Linked DNA regions of Homo sapiens: regions 1 and 3 are each linked to region 2. Evidence: fine-mapped QTL for protein levels in blood plasma. Region 2 holds a variant in brackets. A gene starts in each other region. All regions are shown on their forward strands. Region 1 holds the start of COQ7 (coenzyme Q7, hydroxylase). Region 2 overlaps SNX17 (sorting nexin 17). Region 3 holds the start of CD276 (CD276 molecule).

What was found. A credible set is the group of variants that fine-mapping cannot tell apart. PIP is the posterior inclusion probability: the model's chance that the variant is causal. Protein levels are from antibody-based Olink assays in UK Biobank. Linkage for the fine-mapping came from a reference panel and not from the study's own genotypes, which makes the PIPs less certain.
Region 1: COQ7 starts here. The variant in region 2 is the best candidate, but not a certain one, in a credible set for the plasma level of the COQ7 protein (UK Biobank, PIP 0.56).
Region 3: CD276 starts here. The variant in region 2 is the best candidate, but not a certain one, in a credible set for the plasma level of the CD276 protein (UK Biobank, PIP 0.53).

What each region holds. Positions count from the first base shown.
Region 1 is chr16:19,064,549-19,069,548 of GRCh38, forward strand. COQ7 (coenzyme Q7, hydroxylase) reads left to right here and starts at 3,066. Exons shown (of 6, transcript NM_016138.5): 1 at 3,066-3,189. The coding sequence starts at 3,117. It overlaps COQ7-DT (COQ7 divergent transcript), which reads right to left and starts at 3,143. Exons shown (of 3, transcript NR_119381.1): 1 at 3,033-3,143. RefSeq lists a silencer at 3,090-3,249 and an enhancer at 3,280-3,429.
Region 2 is chr2:27,372,981-27,379,883 of GRCh38, forward strand. It overlaps SNX17 (sorting nexin 17), which reads left to right. Exons shown (of 15, transcript NM_014748.4): 4 at 267-331; 5 at 881-991; 6 at 1,105-1,195; 7 at 1,366-1,453; 8 at 1,709-1,778; 9 at 2,081-2,173; 10 at 2,526-2,729; 11 at 2,866-2,991; 12 at 3,126-3,203; 13 at 3,333-3,407; 14 at 3,499-3,540; 15 at 3,626-4,555. The coding sequence ends at 3,739. It overlaps ZNF513 (zinc finger protein 513), which reads right to left. Exons shown (of 4, transcript NM_144631.6): 3 at 5,487-6,074; 4 at 4,255-5,391. The coding sequence ends at 4,565. Among named protein-coding and RNA genes, the nearest start is that of ZNF513, 4.3 kb to the right of the region's middle. RefSeq lists enhancers at 4,722-4,881, 5,496-6,366. The variant T/C (reference allele first, on the strand shown) is at 2,250.
Region 3 is chr15:73,676,715-73,686,017 of GRCh38, forward strand. CD276 (CD276 molecule) reads left to right here and starts at 7,669. Exons shown (of 10, transcript NM_001024736.2): 1 at 7,669-7,746. RefSeq lists enhancers at 6,558-7,066, 8,084-8,590 and silencers at 7,450-7,499, 7,620-7,749, 7,760-7,889, 8,050-8,099.

The DNA of each region.
Region 1 (5,000 bases), not on the chromosome of region 2:
GGGTTTCTCCATGTTGGTCAGGCTGGTCTCAAACTCCCGACCTCAGGTGGTCTGCCTGCCTCGGCCTCCCAAAGTGCTGGGATTACAGGCGTGAGCCACCGTGCCCGGCCGTGTTTTTTTTTTTTTTTTTTTTTTAATATGTAGTCTCTATTGCCCAGGCTGGAGTGCAGTAGTGCGATCTCGGCTCACTGCAAGCTCTGCCTCCCGGGTTCACCATTCTCCTGCCTCAGCCTCCCGAGTAGCTGGGACTACAGGCGCCCACCACCACACCCGGCTAATTTTTTGTATTTTTAATAGAGACAGGGTTTCATCAGGATGGTCTTGATCTCCTGACCTCATGATCTGCCCGCCTCGGCCTCCCAAAGTGCTGGGATTACAGGCGTGAGCCACTGTGCCTGGCTGTGTTTTTTTTTTTTTTTTTTTTTGAGATGTAGTCTCACTCTATTGCCCAGGCTGGAGTGCAGTAGTGCGATCTCGGCTCACTGCAACCTGGGTTCAAGTGATTCTCCTGCCTCAGCCTCCCAAGTAGCTGGGACTACAGGTGTGTGCCACCATGCCCAGCTAATTTTTGTACTTTTAGTAGAGATGGGGTTTTGCCCTGTTGGTCAGGCTGGTCTTGAACTGCTGACCTCAAGTGATCCTTCCACTTCGGCCTCCCAAAGTCTGGGATTACAGGGGTGAGCCTCCGTGCCTGGCTGGAACTAGTTTTTTTAATGGATAATTTGGTGGGTAGGGGGATGGAATTAGGGAATAGTATGCATTTTTGTTTTTTAAATTTTGTTTTGCCATTATAAAAATACTTGTTTTTTATAGCAAATACAGAGAACATCAAAAGCAACAGAGAAAAAAACTTAAAAAGCAGCACTTATGGGCACGCACTGTTAATCCTGGCAAAATTCTTTTTAAGATAGAAAGTACAGAGGGAGGGAAAAAGAAGGAAAAAGAAGGAAAGAACTTTGGTATTCTAATTTCTTTTTCACTTAATATGTGTTTTCCTGAAGAATCTAGTGTTTTCTCCTGTTATTAAAAGCTCTTTACAAACATTTCAATGGGCTACATAACATCATACAGTTGGATTTTTTTTTTTTTTTTTGAGCCAGAGTCTAGGTCTATCACCCACTCTGGAGTGCAGTGGTGTGATCATGGCTCAGTGCAGCCTCAACCTCCTGGGCTCAAGTGATCCTTTTAGCCTCACAAGTAGGTGGGATCAGAGGCACACACCACCATGCCTGACTAATTTTTAAAATTTTTTGTAGAGATGGAATCTCACTGTGTTGCCCAGGCTGGTCTTGAACTCCTGGGCTCAAGTGATCCTCTCGCCTCAGTCTCCCAAAGTGTTGGGATTACAGGCGTGAGCCACTGCACTCGGACATGATGTTTTGATATTCAATTGTTGCTTAACATTTTGTTTCCAAATTTTCCCAGTAATAAATAATGGGCACATCTATAAATCTTTGTCAACATTTTTTCTCCTTAGAAACAGAGACCTAGGCCAGGCGTGGCGGCTCACGCCTATAATCCCAGCACTTTGGGAGGACAAGGTGGGAGGATCACTTGAGGTCAGGAATTTGAGACCAGCCTGGCCAACACAGCGAAACCCAGTCTCAGCTGGGCGTGGTGGTGTGTGTACCTGTAATCCCATCTACTTGGGAGGCTGAGGCAGGAGAATCGCTTGAACCCGGGAGGCAGAGGTTCCAGTGAGCCAAGGTCTCCCCACTGCAATCCAGCCTGTGCGACAGAGTGAAACTCCATTTAAAAAGAACAAAAACAAAAAACAAAACAAAAAGGAAACAGAGACCTAGAAGTGGTATTACAGCAAAGGTTTTGAACATTTTAAGGCTTTTGAGCGCCAGATTCAGACACTCAGTAGTTTTACATGAGAGTGCTACAACATCCTCACTAAGTAGTATTTGGGTTCATCATAATTTTAAATTATTTTGGTGTGTCAATTTGAACACTAGAGTGATATAAAAACTAAAAACTTGAATTCAATAATTTTACAATTGTATTCCATCTTAAAATATTTTATGGTAAACTTGGATAAAGTATATAAATAATCCAAGGGTGTAAAGTAGAAAGTGAAAGCTCCCTTCTCCCAGTTCCAGCCCCCTGATGTTGCCAATATTAAACGTTGTATATCCTTGCAGACACGCATCTTTGATTTTTGCCCTCATGTACATTACTCATTTAAAAATTATTTCGTTGAGTAGATTCCTAAAAGTAAGACTGCTGTATTATATGATCTTTTTAAAGTATGTTGCTAAATTTCCCCTCCCTTCTCAAAAAATTCCAATTTGCACAAATATACATGCATACATGCACACAGTACATTAAGGTGGATACCAAGGATAAAACATGTTCTCTGTTTCTGAAAATAGAGAAAAGACCGGGAAGAAGTTTAAAGTTGGCTTTCAGCCCACCAATAGAGATAACACTATATAACACCATTAACCATGTGGTGCATGTAATTTAGATATACATATAATTTTATTTATTTATTTATTTTTCAGACAGGGCCCAGGCTAGAGTGCAGTGGCAGAATCACGGCTGACTGCAGCCTCGAGCTACCGGGCTCAAGCTATCCCCCCACCTCAGCCTCCCGAGTAGCTGGGACTACAGGTGTGCTCCACCAGACCCGGCTAATTTTTAAAATTATTTGTAGAGGCGGGGTCTCGCTATGTTGCCCAGGCTTACTATTTTAAAGTAGATGTAGGATACAAATAAAAAAAAAAATCTCCTTCCACGTAGGTAAAGCAGGAAATACCGTGCCTTGTTAATAAGTAATTCCCTCATGATCCTTTTCCCCAGGAACTTGGGTGAGAAATCATAACCTTGTCCTGATCTTTCTAAACAGCAATTTAGCATTTTCATCTCCCTGGCAACCCAAGGCGCCTTGGCCTTGGTCTTCCGAGTGATTGACAGTGACCCCACCCAATAAAATCTTTTTATTTGTCGTATCTAACCAATCTAACCCCTAGCGCAGAGCTAGGGGGCGTTCCCACCGGTGCGCGGGCGAGCTGAGCCTTCCTTACGTCTGCTGTGCGTCATCAGTCCGAGCCAAGGGCACTATTGGCCAGTTCCGTTCAACGAAGTGGTTGCTTTTTTTAGTTCCGGCAATGAGTTGCGCCGGGGCGGCGGCGGCTCCCCGCCTTTGGCGGCTGCGCCCGGGGGCCCGGCGGTCCCTCTCAGGTAAAAGGAGGCGCGCAGTCACAGTCCTGCGCCGGTCTAGCGAGCTAGGGAATTTTCGCTTGAGGTTTGGGTCGAAGAGGTCACGGGGGAGAGGTTCGTAACGTCACAGGCCTGCGACGGAGCGCGACTGCGTGACTTCGGCCTCCGGGGCGCTGGCGGGCGGGGCGGGGTCTGTAGTTAGCGGCGAGAGTGACAGGAGGACAGGGGTTGTTTCGGCAGTGACGCCTGGGGAGTGACGCAATTGCACCCCTGTGCAGTGATGTCACGGCAGGTGCGGCCAGCGTTCCGAGTCGAGGACAGTTGGCGACACTGAAAATTCAGCGTCTCCGGGAGTCTCTCTCTTTGTAGTCTTTGCCCAGGGCCTTGCCAGGCAAAGGGTAGCCCGACGACCAGCAGCCTCCGCTACTTCTGGGCGCTCGCTAGAAATACAGATTCTCGGGCCCCACCCCGACCTACTTGGTCGGTATCTGTGATCTGTGAACAGGACCTTTAGGTGATTTGCATGCACTGTAAACTGTGAAAGCCATCAGTGTAGTGGAAGGAGCATCGAATTTAGAGTAGAGAGACATGGTTTTGGACCCTGGTTCCTGCTTTCCTTGTTTCATCTGTGCTGCCTTAGAAAATTGTCATGAGCCCGGGCGCGGTGGCTCCGGCCTATAATCTCAGCACTTTGGGAGGCCGAGGCTGGAGGATCCCCTGAGGTCAGGAGTTTGAGACCAGCCTGGCCAACATGGTGAAACCCCGCCTCTACTAAAAATACAAAAATTTGCCAGGCGTGATGGCAGGTGCCTGTAATCCCAGCTACTCAGGAGGCTGAGACAGGAGAATCGCTTGAACCCGGGAGGCAGAGATTGCTTTGAGGCGAGATTGCACCACTGCACTGCAACCTGGGCGTCAGAGCGAGACTTTGTCTCCCCCGCGCAAAAAAAAAAAAAAAAAAGAAATTTCATGAAGTCGTTTTCTCAACGTTAAATTACCGTGTACCACTTTCGGGATTTTTGCCTAATGGCAGTACTGCTTGAACTTTTGATTACTAGATGTGTTTTTTTGTATAGCTATGTCCCATTTAAAAATTAAATTAATTTCCTTGAAACAAAATCCTTATGGTGAATGGGAAGCCAGTGCCACTTGCCACAAATGGGTGAGTAATCATTAAAAAAAAACAAACAAATTAAAAAGTTATGAAATTGTATTAAATACTGTCTTTCTGTTACAAAGGGGAAATTAGCAAGTGTTGGGAAAGTGTTAAGGCTATACCAGCTGTAAATGGAGTTATCTTCCTTAATGAAAGAGATTGCAAGAGATTTTGAAAGAGTACCCCTTACTACATGGGGTTATTTGCTGCATATCCATAAGCCACTTAATATTTTGTAGGTACCACACTGGCATGTTTCACACTTTGGGAAAATATGGACATAAAGTGATGCATTTGAGAGCTAGCACCGAGCCTCAATTTTACTTTAAAGTATATGGTAATGCAGGCAAAACTCCGAGGGTTGTTGAATGTGAATTTTAATGCTGCTCTGTTCAGCCAGTGAGCATAACAGAATAAGACTCATTTCTGTTTATAAAGTTACTTTGCTTCTTATATCTTATTTTATCCTCATAACTCAGTAAGAAAAGTTTATTATTGTATGTTTTCCCTTAAAAAGGAAAGAGCCTGATTATTGCCTTTTTTTTTTTTTTTTTTTGAGGCAGAGTCTTGCTTTGTCGCCCAGGCTGGAGTGCAGTGGCGCGATCTCAGCTCACTGCAACCTCCGCCTCCTGGGTTCAAGTGATTCTCCTGCCTCAGACTCCCGAGTAGCTGAGGC
Region 2 (6,903 bases):
GGAGAGAACTTAATTTGTATCTGATGTGCTTTAGATTAACATCATTGTTATTTCCCTAGTTCTATAGACTGGACTCACCTAGATGGCAGCCAAGGGTGGGGCAGGTGAAGAATTTATGCAAACAGTGAGTGAGGTGAGGCCAGCTGGGGGATGTGGCAGGCCACCATCAGCCCAGGAAATGGGGTCGGGGGAACCTACTGAGAGGAGGACTGGGGAGCCAAGAGTGAGTGCTAAGTTCCTGTAATAATGTTCTCTTGTCCTCGTAGTTCGGCAAGACCCATTGCTTGGGAGCAGCGAGACTTTCAACAGTTTCCTGCGTCGGGCACAACAGGTAGGGCTTTGGGTGGGACCAAGATTTAAGGAAAGGACCTTGCTGGAAGGTCATGTCTTTTATTTTTTTGAGACAGAGTCTTGCTCTTTTGCACAGGCTGGAGTGCAGTGGTGCGATCTCAGCTCACTGCAATCTCCGCCTCCCGGATTCAAGCGATTCTCCTGCCTCAGCCTCCCAAGTAGCTAGAATTACAGGCGCCTGCCACCATGTCCGGCTCATTTTTGTATTTTTAGTGGAGACGGGGTTTTGCCGTGTTGGCCTGGCTGGTCTCGAACTCCTGACCTCAGGTGATCCACCCGCCTTGGCCTCCCAAAGTGCTGGGATTACGGGTGTGAGCCACCACACCCAGCCAGGCCATGTCATCTTAATAACAGAGGAGTCATCTTTTTTAATGGAATGGAACTTCTATTCTTATGAAATCAAAGAAATCACAGCCTATATTTAAGCAGCTGAGAATAAAGACACACAAGGGACCTAGAAATAGAGTTGGGCATAGGTCAAGGCAAGGGACAAGGCAGTGCTTCCCATCCCCATGTGTGCTCACAACAGGAGACACAGCAGGTCCCCACAGAGGAAGTGTCCTTGGAAGTGCTGCTCAGCAACGGGCAGAAAGTTCTGGTCAACGTGCTAACTTCAGATCAGACTGAGGATGTCCTGGAGGTGAGGCGCTTGTTCAGCACTGCCCCTTCTTCCCCTACATCCTGGGGTCCTGGGCTTGGAGAATGATTGGAACCAGCCAGTATGATGAGCTGTACTTCTATCCCTATCCCCAGGCTGTAGCTGCAAAGCTGGATCTTCCAGATGACTTGATTGGATACTTTAGTCTATTCTTAGTTCGAGAAAAAGAGGATGGAGCCTTTTCTTGTGAGTTTCTCTGGACTTGACTGCAGTACAAGGGTACTTCAGTAGAGTTTGCAGCCCCCCTAACTCCCCACCCCCACCCCCAGAATGAACATTGCCTCAGGGCACTTCTTTCTTGATTTCCCTTCCTTTAAATCTCACTATATTTTCATTTTTTTTTTTTTAACCTGTAGTTGTACGGAAGTTGCAAGAGTTTGAGCTGCCTTATGTGTCTGTCACCAGCCTTCGGAGTCAAGAGTATAAGATTGTGCTAAGGAAGAGGTCAGGGCTGGGCCTGGAAGGGGAGGGGTGGGAGGTGCTGTGCTGGATTGGATTATTGGGCCACATATTGAGACAGAATAATCTGGACAAGGGGGTGTAGTGCTGGGTGTTTCTGCCAGGCCTCCCAAGCTTCCTCCCACTATACCATTAGCCCCTGATAGTTCCAGATTGCTCCTGTTTTGCCCATTTTCCATTCTACCTCTTGCCTTAACCCAGCTTAGCCCCATTACCCCTTTCCACCCCTTGGCCTCACAGTTATTGGGACTCTGCCTATGATGACGATGTCATGGAGAACCGGGTTGGCCTGAACCTGCTTTATGCTCAGGTGAGCTTGGAGCTGCCTCAGAACCCTTCCCCTGAAGAAAATAACGGGTGACTCACTCTCCCAAGAAAACTGCTGTCGTGTCTTTGTTCCCAATTTGTGGGGAAGTTCCTAGAATACTATCAGTGCTGCTGGCACAATATCTACTCTCCCTACTTTTATTAAGCTGACAAGATCAAGGACTTACTGCAGAGAGGTCGCTCAAGTGTGGGGCTAGGGGTCAGGCTGGACAGAGGTAATGGTAGACGCTTTCCTTGGATTGCTGACTGGGACCTCCTACTGCCTGCCCCTTGTCTCTACTATAGACGGTATCAGATATTGAGCGTGGGTGGATCTTGGTCACCAAGGAACAGCACCGGCAACTCAAATCTCTGCAAGAGAAAGTCTCCAAGAAGGAGGTGAGCCCTGCCTCCTCTCTGTCTTCCTCTAAGGGCTTGCAGTGGCGCGATCTTGGCTCACTGCAAGCTCTGCCTC[T/C]CAGATTCATGCCATTCTCCCGCCTCAGCCTCCCGAGTAGCTGGGACTACAGGCACCCGCCACGACGCCCGGCTAATTTTTTGTATTTTTGGGAGAGACAGGGTTTCACCATGTTAGCCAGGATGGTCTTGAGCTCCTGACCTTGTGATCTGTCTGCCTCTGCCTCCTAAAGTGCTGGGATTATAGGCATGAGCCACCGCGCCCGACCGGGGTTGCTTTTTCTGAGCTGCCCCATTCTCCCTCCTAATCTACCCCCATGTGATGACCATTTTTCAGTTCCTGAGACTGGCCCAGACGCTGCGGCACTATGGCTACTTGCGCTTTGATGCCTGTGTGGCTGACTTCCCAGAAAAGGACTGTCCTGTGGTGGTGAGCGCGGGCAACAGTGAGCTCAGCCTGCAGCTCCGCCTGCCTGGCCAGCAACTCCGAGAAGGCTCCTTCCGGGTCACCCGCATGCGATGCTGGCGGGTCACCTCCTCTGTGAGTCGGGTTAGGAGGGGGAAGGGCCTGGGTTGGGGGCCCGGCAAGCCTTGAGCTTAGGTATGGGCTGCAGCGGGTCAGGGAGCCAGACAGGTTGGTCAGAGTGAACTCAACCGAATTCCCCTTCCTCTCCCAGGTACCATTGCCCAGTGGAAGCACGAGCAGCCCAGGCCGGGGCCGGGGTGAGGTGCGCCTGGAACTGGCTTTTGAATACCTCATGAGCAAGGACCGGCTACAGTGGGTCACCATCACTAGCCCCCAGGTGTGAACCTACCCTCAGCCCTCCTCTGGAGCACCTTAAAGTGTAGAGTTTCCAGTACTCAATATGGGAGGCATTAGTGGTGCTGGGCTCAGAGTGACCACTCTCATCAAGCTGGACACTCTTCTTGCCCTCAGGCTATCATGATGAGCATCTGCTTGCAGTCCATGGTTGATGAACTGATGGTGAAGAAATCTGGCGGCAGTATCAGGAAGGTAGGCAGCAAGTGTGGACTGAGCAGTGAGCAGGTGTGCTCCCCTTGCCTTTTGTCCTAGATGTGAGGCTTGTCTTGAGAGGGAGGGGAAGTGATCCTGCCCTCACCGGCACCTTGTGTCTGTCCCCAGATGCTGCGCCGGCGGGTGGGGGGTACTCTGAGACGCTCAGACAGCCAGCAAGCAGTGAAGTCCCCACCACTGCTTGTAAGTATTACCTCCTGGTCAGAACCCTGGCTCTCAGCCCTGCCTCACCTCTCCTAGTGAGTTTCTGACACCTCTGCCTCTTCTTCCCCAGGAGTCACCTGATGCCACCCGGGAGTCTATGGTCAAACTCTCAGTGAGTTCCAGCGTTGGTGAGGTTGCTGTTTGTTGGGGGATCTTGCACGCCCAAGATCTCTGACCCCACCCTGCCTTTGTTACAGAGTAAGCTGAGTGCCGTGAGCTTGCGGGGAATTGGCAGTCCCAGCACAGATGCCAGTGCCAGTGATGTCCACGGCAATTTCGCCTTCGAGGGCATTGGAGATGAGGATCTGTAATCTCCACTGCTTGGATGTCTGCCCTCTACCCCAGAGGAATTTACAGAAACTTGCCCTGTGCCTGTGTCCCCCATGCTAGGGGCGGAGGGGTCTTTTCCTTCTTCTTTCCTACCTACCCCTTTTCTCTTGGCCAGGGGCCTCGTATCCTACCTTTCCTTGTCCCCTGGGCTGGCTGCACAGAGGATTGCCCCTTCTCTTTTCAGAGCTGGCCCTCGATGCCAAATTAGCATTTAGTATTTTGCACAAAGTCTAAGGGACCATGGCTGCCTGCCTTGGGGAGGAACCATATCTCCCTCTGGGCCGCTTCTGGCCTCTTGGAGCCATGGGCCAAAGGCCAAGGGGATGGGCAGAGGTCTGTGTTTGGTCTGGCCCAGTTCCCCATCATTAAACTCAGCCTGACTGCTGCCTACCTCTGGTTCCCTCTCACTGCCCCTGCTTCCCCCATCACAGCATGGACTACTATGCTAAGGGTAAGGCCAAATTGCCTGCCATTGCCAATTCAGCATAGACATGGCTTTGTTAGTGTTTCCTTTATTATAAAGCACTGAAATAAGTTAAATAAACAGGTGGGAGGCTGGGCAGTCCCCCAGCCGGTTTGTCCACAGCCCCTGGGGGCAGTGGAGGTGAATACAGGGCCCTTCTCACTGAGCTCGTGAAGTGCCTCAGTCAAGGCAAGGTCCCCTGGTCCATATGGGCCCCCCCGCCCATGGGGTTGGGCTGGTCCTTATAGTGCCTACGTTAGTCTGTGTGGAGCCCCTGGCCAGCGGGGGAGAAAAAGGTGGCTTCTGGTCCGTCTGTATAAAACATGGGGAAGAAGGACCTAGTTCAGGATGAGTCTGTGTGGACAGCCCGGCTGCCAGCAGTCCCCAGGGCTGGTGGGCCCCGAGAGCTCAAAACAGAGGGTGGGCTATGAGGTGGGGCCCAGCCCTCAGAGGCAGAGAGACCAGGCCCTCCTGCCCCACCGTGGCCATGCACCTTCTGGTGGCGCTTGTAGTTGTCCCAGTGGCCCGTGGTATAGGCGCAGGTGGCACAGCGGAAGGGCTTCTCGCCTGTGTGCCGCAGCATGTGACGTTTGAGGTTCATGCTCTGGTTGCAGCTGTAGTTGCAAAGGCTACACCGAAAAGGTTTGTCACCAGAGTGGATGCGACCATGACGCTTGAGGTTGGCCAGATTGCCACAGGCATAAGGGCAGAGGGGGCACTTGTAGGGCTTCTCTCCTGTATGGACGCGCTGGTGCCGTTTCAGGTTATCCAGATGAGCAGAGGCATAAGGACAGCGGGCGCAGCGGAAGGGCTTCTCACCACTGTGTGTCTTCATGTGCCGGGCCAGGTGGTTGGGATAGTGAGTGGCAAAGGGGCAGAGGCTACAGGCAAAGCCTTTGTCACTGGGGCCCTGGGGCCCCCCACTGGCACCCCCTCCAGCCTCTCCTCGCATGCAGCGCCCACACATGGCAGCTCCCAGCCGACTACCCTCACCCTCCTCCAGCTCTTGTCCACAGCCCCGGCAGGTCCAAGGGAATAGCAGCTCTGGCAGTGGTTCTGATCCAGTCCCGCAGAGGCCCTCCCCTTCACCCCGCAGCTGCCCACAGTCTGGCAGGAAACTGGCACCACCTGGTGGCACATGGAGGCTCAAATCTGGAAGGAGCAGAGCATCTGTGGGGACAAAGACCTGGGCTATGAATCCAATCCAAGCATTCCTAGGGTCAGCCACCCATGTCCCAAGATCTTTGGTCCCTGGTGTGTCTTACCTTCAGGTCGCCGGGGCACCGCCCCCTCCTGCTCTGTGGGACTGGGAGGCCGGGCTGGTCGTGGAGTACAGCAGCGGAAGCCACAGGTCGGGCAGGGAGGAGTGGGGGGCCCTGCGTGGGTACGCTGATGCCGCCTCAGGTTGCCCAGGCTGCTGCAGGCAAAGGGGCAGTGGGGACAGCGGTAGGGCTTCTCGCCAGTGTGGGTGCGGGTATGTCGTGTCAGGTTGACGAGCTGGGCTGAGGCGTAGGGGCAGCGGCCACAGCGGAACGGCTTCTCTCCGCTGTGTGTCTGCATGTGCCGCTTCAGGTGGCTCGAGTAGTGGGACACGAAGGTGCAGAGGCGGCATGAGTACAGTAGCCGTGGGGGCAGCAGGGGCCCCCCACCCGGCCCTCCTGCCCCACAACACGGCCCCTCACCTGTCGGCCCCCCACACAGCTGGCAGGCTGGGCCTGGCCTCTCACCCCTGGCCTCCCCTGGACCCCTGGCTGGCTCCTCAACTTCACTCTCCGCACTTAGTGCCCGGCCGCCCCCAGACTCATCGTCGCTCAGCCCATAGGGAAGCCCAGGCCTGGCCCCCAGAGAGTCTCCTGGTGAAATAGACATAAGAAGAGACATCAGCATAGGGTAGGATCAGGCTCCAAACTCTCCCCTTTTCACTTATGGTCTCCCCACTTGCTTGGCTCCACCCTTAGCTTTGATGATCCCTTTAGTTCCCTCCTAGGAATCAAGGTCTCCCCTGCAGTAATTCCAGAAAATTCAACATGAATTGTCTACCTCTTACACTGGACTAATCTAGTGATGGTAGAATTGACCTGTATCTAGTTTCCCTCAATGGTCAAGGATCAAGGGCTCACAGTGGATCACAGACTGAAATGAATCCATAATGAAATTAATTCTTGAGACAAGAAAGTAAAAATACGAAAGGGAGAGAGCCCCCAAGACCTTTTTCTAAGCTCTATTGCTAAGGCCCCTTTTAGTAAGGAGCTGATATAAAATAAAACCTATCTCTGAGGCAAAATTTGGAGGGAAGTGGAGACAATGAAAGTAATGCATGTAATACCACTTGCCTGCCTAAAGAACAGATATTTACATGGATCCCCTCAATGACTTTCAAAAAACATCTTGCATAAGTGGATGGGTAGTGCAGCAAATTAGGGTAGGGTGATGCTAAGATCACAGGGAAGAGGGACATGGAAGGATAAAGACAGAAACTAAAACCTCTCAATACAAAAGGAGCTTACGCTGCAGGTGAAAGGGAGTTAGATTAGACCTAAATACTGGGTTGAATGATTTACAGAGAGTTTGCTTCCCTGAACCTCTCTTAAAAGTAAATACACATAAGGAATGGGCTAGGGAGAGAGACAGGGCATTTACTTTTAATCAGTTGCTCCATGTGATTCACCCACCCTCCTATTC
Region 3 (9,303 bases), not on the chromosome of region 2:
GTTTCAAGAAAGGTAGTGAATGATTTGGAGACAGTGAAAAGATTGATGATGCAGGAGAGGAGAATTTCTGGCGTGATGTCCTTGAGTAGGCAAGTTGCGCAAAAGGAGGGCTGACCTGAATGGTAGCACAAGGAGGGAAGGCAGAGGGTGTGGCCCAGGTGCTCTTTTCTCTGCTCCCAGACCTGCTCTTCTTGAGGTGGCCTTCCCCTTCTGCCCCCTGCACTTGACCCATTTCCTGGTGCCAGACTCTGCAAGCAGCACTACCAGGGTAATTAGATCGATGTCTTCCCAAGTGTGTGTTGTCTTAGAGAAGGTCAGACCTGGGCAGGTCCCTGATGCCTTTCACTTATTGAGTTCTTCCCATCCTTCAAGGTCAGCTATAACCCAGCTCCTCTGCGAACCCTTCCCTGACCTCCACAGCCTCAGTCCACACAGCTTTCCCCTCTCCTTCCATCCCATTTCCTTCTTCAAGCTGGGCATTGAGGAGCATCCTTGGAGACCTAGGACAGGTGAGGACAGGAGCCCATTTCAGCTGCATTTCCACTTATCACCAGGAGGTGGCTCAGAGTAGCAAGTGCCTATGTCAACCATGATGGAAAGAACTTGGAAAAGGAGTAGGGAAGTTGGAGACTGTTAGTTCCTTTCTGGCTCTGCAGGCCGCTTGTCCATGGCGCTAGCCTGCTTCATTAGTCCTGTCTGCTGCAGGGCCGAGGAGGAAATTCTGATGCTCTCAGTGAGAAATGGTGGCTCAGGGCTGCAGAGGAGCTTTAGGAGGACTCTGAGAGGAAAAGGCCCAGAACGGTTAAGCTACCTCCTCCCGCCACATGGTTAGTTTGTGGCAGGGATGAGAGGTGAGTCCTGGTGTCCTGGTTTTCAGCCTGCTGTACTGTCAATGCCCCTTCCCGCCAGCCAGGGTCAAGCATTCACTCCAGAGTTCAAGCCTTCATTCAGCTATAGCATCCCAGGTGGGAGTGAGGGAGCATGAGTGAGGAGCCTGGAGGAGAATGAGCCAGAGTTCCTGCCCTAAGGGAGCCCTCAAAGTGCCTGGGGAGATATGACATGTGGCTTGGGCCAAGTGGAGAACACTGTGGGCAGCACACATCAGAACAGACCAAGGCTGAAGCTGGCACCTGCTCCTTGGAGGAGGCTTAGGGAAGTAAGTGGATTGGTCCAGTTTGAGAGGACAACCTCTGATAGACTCCCTCCTCTTAAGCTGGGAGGAACTGGACTACATGAATATTTATGGAGGGGTGGAGGGTGATGGAGACGGGCCACATTTTGACAGCAATGCTGACCCTAAAGAATAATGAAGGGCTGGTCAAGGAACTACTAGGGTGAGGGGAGAAACTCCAGCTGGAGTCACTCCTCAGAAGCCACACATCTGGCTGCACATCTCCCTGAGTGGACGGCATCAGTGCTGCTGCTCAAGTTCCTGTTTGGAAACCCAGAGCCCATCCCTGTTTGCCTGTGAAGGTGCCAGGTTCCTGCAGAAAGTCTGCTTATAAAGGATTTCTTTTGAAGTTATGTTTGTGATGGTCTCATCAAGAAAACTGAGGAAGGAACAGGAGCCACACATGTCATTTAGCTGAAAGTCCTGTTTTAAGAAAACAAACGCAAGGTTGTATTCATGAGCAACTGCTAACCACAATAATGGAAGAAGCAGTTAAGCTAATAAGATATAATACCCCATACTTCATGTAGTAACCTTGGGAGAGGTAGGCCAGTGGGCAGGAAGCCCCATGTCTGGTGGCAGAAGCAGGGTGGGAAGGAAACTGCAAGAGAACTGAGCCTTGGTCACTGACTGAGGATGTTGCGATTCACACATCCTGCTTCGTGGCCTGGATTGTCTCGAACTGGGTTCTTCCCTAGCACCAGTAACCCAAGTGGAGACCTAGCAGCAGCCAAGACATGTTCCCAAGAAGGGTCACTTTCACTGCAAAATGCCTATCTCCAGGAGAAGAGGGGGAGTGGACTGAGAGAAGCCAGGGAGAGAGAAAGGGCAGGGATTTGCAGTCAGTTGTCCTGCCTCAGGGATTAGGGTTGACATGAAGAACTGCAGGTTAAGAGTGCTCCATTAAGGAAGATTAGATAAACTGTTCTCACCACTGGGGCAGTTAAACCTTCCCTTGAGTCCCTTTGGTAAGGTGCCCTGAAGATGCCTAGGCATAATGTCACAAACCCAGCTGAAAACGAATACCACAAAGAGACCCTGTGACTCTGAAAACAGCAATATTTGCACTTAAGATTCAGCACCTGGCTTACTCCTGTAGTCCTAGCTACTAGGGAGGCTGAGGAAGGAGGATTTCTTGTGCCCAGGGGTGAATTCAAGGCTACAGTGAGCTACAATTGCACTACGGCACTCTAGCCTGAGTGACAGAACAAGATCCCGTCTCTTAAAAAATAAAAATAAAATAAAAAAGGATTAAACTCCTGGATTGAAATTCAGATTTCTGGATTCCATATGGTTTATCCACTATCTTCCTTAAGAGGGCCATCACCACTGGCTTGTGAGGCAGGGCCCCTTGTTCTCCAAGCCAGGGGCACTCGATCTTATTCATCTAGCAGGAACCCTTAGTTGTTCTGGTCAGTGCCTGCTTCTCTGAGCCTGTCTTGGGGCAAGCCTAGGAGCAGGGCCAGGACGAGCATGAGGTACCTGCACCTATGATGCAAAACTGAAGGAGGTGCTCACTTTCAGGTCAGCGCAAGGGTGGAGCCTGTTCAATTATTTGCATGTGAGAGCTATTAGAAAAAAACAACTCCCAATGAGATAGAAGAGTTCCCCTGGTAGCATGGTGCTGTTTTTAGTTTGTTCTGTTGTTTTGTTGTTTTGTTTTTTAAACTCTGTACAACCCTCCTATTTGGAGGACCTGCCACCTTCCTTCCGACTCACCAGCAGCAGGACACAAACTCTGAAATGGCTTCCCGGTATTGGGAGTGTTGTCAGCCAAGATTATAGTAAAGAAATTGGAAAGGGAAAGGGGATTGAATGGTTCAGTTTCACCGGGGATGGGGAGGAAGACAGATAATGGAAAGGGTGAACAGGGAAGAAGAGCAGAGGCTGGTGAGTCAGATAGAAGCAGCTAGTTAGAAAAGACTGCTTAGAAGCTCTTTCGTTATGTTGTTGTGTGTGTATTAGGGCCTTAGGGTTACGGAGTGTTCCCAGGCGATCCTCCCTGGAGGACCTGCTCCTCTTTCATTAGGCTGCTCCTGTTATTTTGCTTGCCAGATGCTTCCAGCTGGCAGTAGTTGGTTCTAGACATTTGAAGCCTATTCCAAGACTCAATTCCCAGGACTAAGAAACTAGGAAGCCGGAACCTGCAGTGGTTGCTATGCACCATATTCAGTTTTACACCGGATTCAGTCATTTGAGAGAAATGTGGTTGCCTTAAGTCTAGGCTGGATGGAATGGTTCCTGATGGCACCCTATGAGTCCTAAGTGAGTGGGCAGAGTGGAGTGCGGGTGGGTGGCTTTTGCCAAGACATCAAGGATTTGAGGCCTAAAAATGCAAACAACTTGGGAAGTAATATGCACCAACCAGCCTGAGGGAAGGGAGGCCAGTGCCAAGGTATTGGCTTAGTGTCGCAGGGATCCTCGATAAAATCCCCAATCGCCACTTGGGCCTTAAATCCCTGACACTGCCAAGAATTGATTTTTGTTTCTTATGGAAGCAGTCAAAATGAATACATTTTCAGTATCATTCTTAGGAGAGGCATCTCAATGTTTCTGAGCCGCTTTCTATGAGATGGACTGCTTAGCTGCTCTAAAAAGACAGAAATATCTCCATAGCTTACACTGTACAGTTTGCATTATCTAAGTGTATTTAAATAGATGAGAGAGACACTTTCCCTTTTGCATGTCAAAGGAGGCAAAAGGAAGTTTTCTCCTAATTTCAGTCATAATTTCTGCCCTGAGGAAAGTTATAATGTTCTACTGTATGGATACACCACATTTTGCCTATCCATTCATCTGGAGATGTAGACACTTGCGTTGCTTCCACATTTTGCCTATTGTGAGTAATGCCACTAAGAATATGAGTGTACAAATATCTCTCTGAGACCCTGCTTTCAATTCTTTGGAGGTATGCCCATAAGTGGAATTGCTGAATCATATAGTAGTTCTATTTTTATTTCTATTTTTTGAGACAGAGTCTCACTTTGTCACCCATGCTGAAGTGCAGTGGCATGATCTCAGTTCACTGCAACCTCCGCCTCCTGGGTTCAAGTGATTCTTCTACCTCAGCCTCCCAAGTAGCTGGGACTACAGGTGAGCGCCACCATGCCTGGCTAATTTTTGTATTATTATTATTTTTTTAGTAAAGATGGGGTTTCACCATATTGGCCAGGCTGGTCTTGAACTCCTGACTTCAGGTGATCCTCCCGCCTTGGCCTCCCAGAGTGTTGGGATTAGAGGTGTGAGCCACCTTGCCTGGCCTATTTTTAATTTTTTGAGGAACTACCAGACTGGTTTCCATAGCTCAAGGCTGCTCCTTTAACAAGCTTTCCCCAAAGCCTCAATCAGTGAGTTTCATTTCCATCTCATTTGCCACACTGGGTCACGTGACTGCCTCTAGCTGCAAGGGGGTCTGAGAACCCACGTATTTTCAACTAGGCATAGAACTTCTTAGAACAAATGCTACACTCTGTTGGTAAGGAAGAAGTAGAGAATTAATTTTAGTGGACAACTAGCAGCCTAAGGGCAAATGAGAACACTGAAGGGCTTCAGGTAAGCAAGAGACATTGTGGGAGGATTTGCGCTTTAGAAGGCTCTCTCTGGCAGCTATGGACTGAGGAGTCACAGTCAGCAGAATTAGTTAAGAGGCTTCAACAACAATCCAGTGAGGAGTGATGGGGGTTCAGATGAGGATGGTGTGGCAGTAGGGTATTCAGGAAAGGGAGGGATTCCTAACATATTCTAGGGCACCCCTTCAAGCCTGCCTGGATATTGGCAGTGGGAAGTGGGGGGAAGTGGGAGGGAACGAGGGATGAGTCCAGGTTTTGAGCATAGTCCTTCCTGTATATCTAGAAGGGGAAACAGGTTTTGGGGACATGTGATAATTCAATTTTGCACATGTTGAATTTGAGGAACCTGCAGGATGGTAGGTAGATAAAAAGTGGGATAAGGCTTGTCCCAATCTGGGTCTTTTGGGATTGGTTTGTGACCTCCTTGGGGAACTTGAAGCAAAACTGGAGATAGCACATTCTGAGTCATCTACTACTGTGCTGACCTAGGAAGCAGGTTGTGGGGAGGTGGGGGGTGGGAGGGATAGAGGTGAGAGGGGTAGGGCTGCTGTCCAGAAAGAATGCATGAAGACAACCTTCCATCCTGAGTTTTTCTGGTTCTGACGGGAATCTCTGTGTAGCACCTCCATTCCTGAGTTCCCAGGGACAATCAGGCAAACATTCTCTGAACCAAGGAGACCCCTGCATGATGGGATGGTCATTCTAGCTATCTGTGTCCAGATCCAAGTGTCTGAGTCTCAGATGAGCTGGTCCTACACATGTGCTATCTGTGCCCTGCCCAAGCTGTTTCCCCCTCCTAGGGGATCAGAGCCCTCTCAATCTGCTGCTTCCAGGAATGAGAGCCAATACACATTTCCTTCCCTCCTGACCTCTGCTCTTGAATGATTATTTTAAAATCTCCCCCCATAGACACACTATAAACTGCTCTGTGATGTTCCTTCACTGTCCACCATGGCTGAGTCATGCCAGATTATAAATCCCTTAGGACAGGACCAGCGTCACCACCGCAAGGCACAAGGCACAGGACTGACTCTTTGTGAAGGGAAGGAAAGTAAGTTTCTCTAGATCTGTTCAATGCCACCTCCAGGGTCCTGCAGCAGGGCTCCTAGCTCCCTCAGCCCAAGGACACCTCTCCATGTGATGCTACTTCCCCAGGTTGCTGGGCCAACTGGAGGCTACTCATCCTGAGACCTGTAAGGCCAGACCCAGGCTGGACGAGGCTGGTCAGGGCCTGGCAGGGCAGTGGGGAGCAGCGTGGAATGGTCCAGAGTTCCTGGAGGTGGTCAGGGACAAGACAGCTGGGCCTCTCTGCTGTCATCCCTAGGAGCAGTCAGCAATTACACAGACACAGCTGCTGTGTGATTCAAAGACACATATGCACGTAGACTCAAATACAGAGTTGCTTGAATGTGTTCACAAATATACACACCCGGCCGGGCGCGGTGGCTCACGTTTGTAATCCCAGCCCTTTTGGAGGCCAAGGCGGGTGGATCACAAGGTCAAGAGATCGAGACCATCCTGGCCAAAATAGTGGTGCGCACCTGTAATCCCAGCTACTCTGGAGGCTGAGGCAGGAGAATCGCTTGAACTCAGGAGGCGGAGGTTGCAGTGAGCCGAGATTGAGCCACTGCACTCCAGAGCCAGACTCTGTCTCAAAAAAAAAAAAAAGACAAAAACCCCCCACAAATATACACACCCATGCACCACCACCCCTACCCATACACCACACGCACACTTAAATTCAGAGGGCAAATCCCGGTTCCTCCCTTCATAGCTATGTGTCCCCAAGTTACTTAATCTCTTTGTATCTTAATTTCCTTATTTCCGATCTGTAAAAATGAGAATAATGGTATTCACCTCAATGAGTTGTTGTGAAGATTAAATGAGATAAAATGGTAAAGAGCTTACAACAGTGGCAACACATGCAGAGAGACGCACATGTTTTCATACTCATTTCCCAAGCCCTGCCCAGTACTGCCACTGGCACTGGTGGTGAGCCTGGCAGCAGTACAAGGTTGGAGTCCCTTCATCCCTTTGAGCCTTGGTTTTCTCATCTGTGAAATGGGAATAATAATATCTAGCCGGCGGGGCTGTTTGGAGGAACTAAAGAGGCCCAGCATGGAAAGCTCCTAACCTAACTCTGGCCCACAAAAGTCTCCCTACGTTTTAGCTGTCACTGTCCCTGTGAGGAAGAACAGATCCAAGAACAGGTGCAGGGATGGGCTGCACCACAGCAAAATCTGGACAGGCCCGACCCCCATCTCCTCCCAGGCTGGAGCGGGGCCCTGTAAGGACAGAGCCCAAGGCCACTAGGTGTCAGGCCTGTTGGAGCCAAGTCCGGCCAGCAGTCTGGGGTGGGGCTGGGGGCAGGGCTGGTCGGATGGCCGTGGGTGGAAGGAAAAGAGGAAAACCAGCTCAGTGGAAATTGTCCTGCGGTTGGCTCAGGCGCCCACGACACTGTATTTATAGAGAGCTCCTTGCAGCTCTTAATTCCTCGCAGTCGAGTTAACCCTTTCTGGGCTGTGGTGCCAGCATGGTGTGGAGGAAGAACCCAAGACTGGGGTTGGACAGCAGGATTCCAGCCCTGTTCTGCCGCCAGTCGATGACCAGTCAGTCACCTATCCCCTCTCGCAGAAAGGAAGATTCGGCTCTTGGAAGTGTGGGAACGGGGTGGGGGATGGGCAGCGCCCTGCTCCGGGAGCCGAGGGTTTTCCCCGCCAGGGTCAGGCCTGGGGGCGGGGCGGGGCGGGGGCGGGGGCCAGGCCGTGTGCTCTGCCCAGCGGGCTGGCTCAGGCCTCGGTCAGCAGCCGCCACCGCGGGGCCAATCCGGCCTCAGGGACGCACCGGAGCCGCCTTTCCGGGCCTCAGGCGGATTCTCCGGCGCGGCCCGCCCCGCCCCTCGGACTCCCCGGGCCGCCCCCGGCCCCCATTCGGGCCGGGCCTCGCTGCGGCGGCGACTGAGCCAGGCTGGGCCGCGTCCCTGAGTCCCAGAGTCGGCGCGGCGCGGTGAGTGCTGGCGTGGCGCGGGCGGCGCGGGGTGGGGCGGCCTTTGTCTGCTGCGGGCCGGGCCTGGATCCCGCGGAGGTCCGCACGTTCCCGCTCAGGGCTGCAGGAGCTGAGCAGGGCGCCTTCCCTCCGGGCTCCTGCTCCCCTGCCCTCCCCCAGGTCCGGGCGGCCCCCCTCGCACAGGAGTCCCGGGAACCGCGGGCGCCCCTCCTGCCCTGGGCTGTGGGGCCCGCGGAGAGCTGGGGGCTCCCGGATCCTACCCCGCCCCCCTTTCCTCGGGTTGAGAGGGGCCCGGGCGCCGTCGGACCTGCAGACCCCGGAAGCTGCGGACCGGGCCGGGTGGGTGAATGCGCTTTTGCAGGCCCCGGGTCTGGAGCGGGCATGGGGGCAGATCTGTCCCGTGTTGAAGCTTAACGAAGCCACCGGCCGGCGCTGGGAGGTTAGCGGGGTCTCGGGTCCTGCAGAGGAAAACGCCCAGCTCCGGGAGGGGAGCGGCGGGGAGGGAAGGCGAGTGGTTAGGCGTGTCCACTCTGCAGGGCCCAGCAGGGCGAAGGTGTGGGCGACTGGTGCACTTCCACAGGCAGCCGTGGGCAGCATGAGGGGTCAGATTCCGGGAAGGACAGGTAGAGACGGCTGGCAGGGGCCACGGGGTGAATAGGTGTTGGGGGTGGGGAGGGAATTGGGATGGGCAGTTTGGGCTTGGGAAGCCTCAGGGAGGTGGGGGGTGAGGTGGGATGGAGAGGAGATGCGGGCGACGGTGGAGGGAGGTGGGGACCCCGAGTGGGGGCACACTAGAAGGGAGGGGATTGAATTCCAGCGCCCAGGGCCCTCCCTGCGACCGTTTAGCTAGCGAATTGGCAGGTTTGGCAGCCTAAGGCAGGGGATTTATTTCTAAGCCAAACCTGCTCTAATGAGAAAAGCGTGATAGATGACTCAGATATGGGATCTATCACTGAGGGAAAACATTAAGCAAATAGTAAAGCAAAAAAGATTTGTGTGTGTGTGTGTGTGTGTGTGTGTGTGTGTGTGTGTGTGGCGGGTGGGGGGGTGTTAGTTGTCTTAATTTAGAAAAACGATTTACCTTCAAATTGGATGTGGATAATTGTAAATGAGTCTGATCTCTTCATTAAAGCCCGGGGTCCTTTTCTTATAAGCATGTCTTCAGCAGTTAGTTTCTATATTAGAAAGTAATGAAGCTGCTTTGTCTTTAAGAGAGTTCTTTATTTAGTGCGGCCTCCTCTAGTTCCCTCTGGCCTCCCAGAAGTCCCTAGGAAATCTGATGCTGTGCAGCCTTCCTTGTAGTGTGGGGGACTGCAAATAGGTGGGACAGTTTGAGGCTGAGGGGAACTGAAGTCTAAACTTGAAGTCTAAACCTGTCCGATGGGTTGAGCTGATCTGAGTGCAGGGCAGGATGGAGGGCTATGGGGCTGTAGGGTATGAAGTGGCTCATTTCAAGGGAGTATTTTGGGTGAGTACATTTTCCTGATATCTGGAGTTCTTGAGATTAAGCACTAACACTTAGGGTAACTGTTGACCGTGGAAATTTACATACGTCAC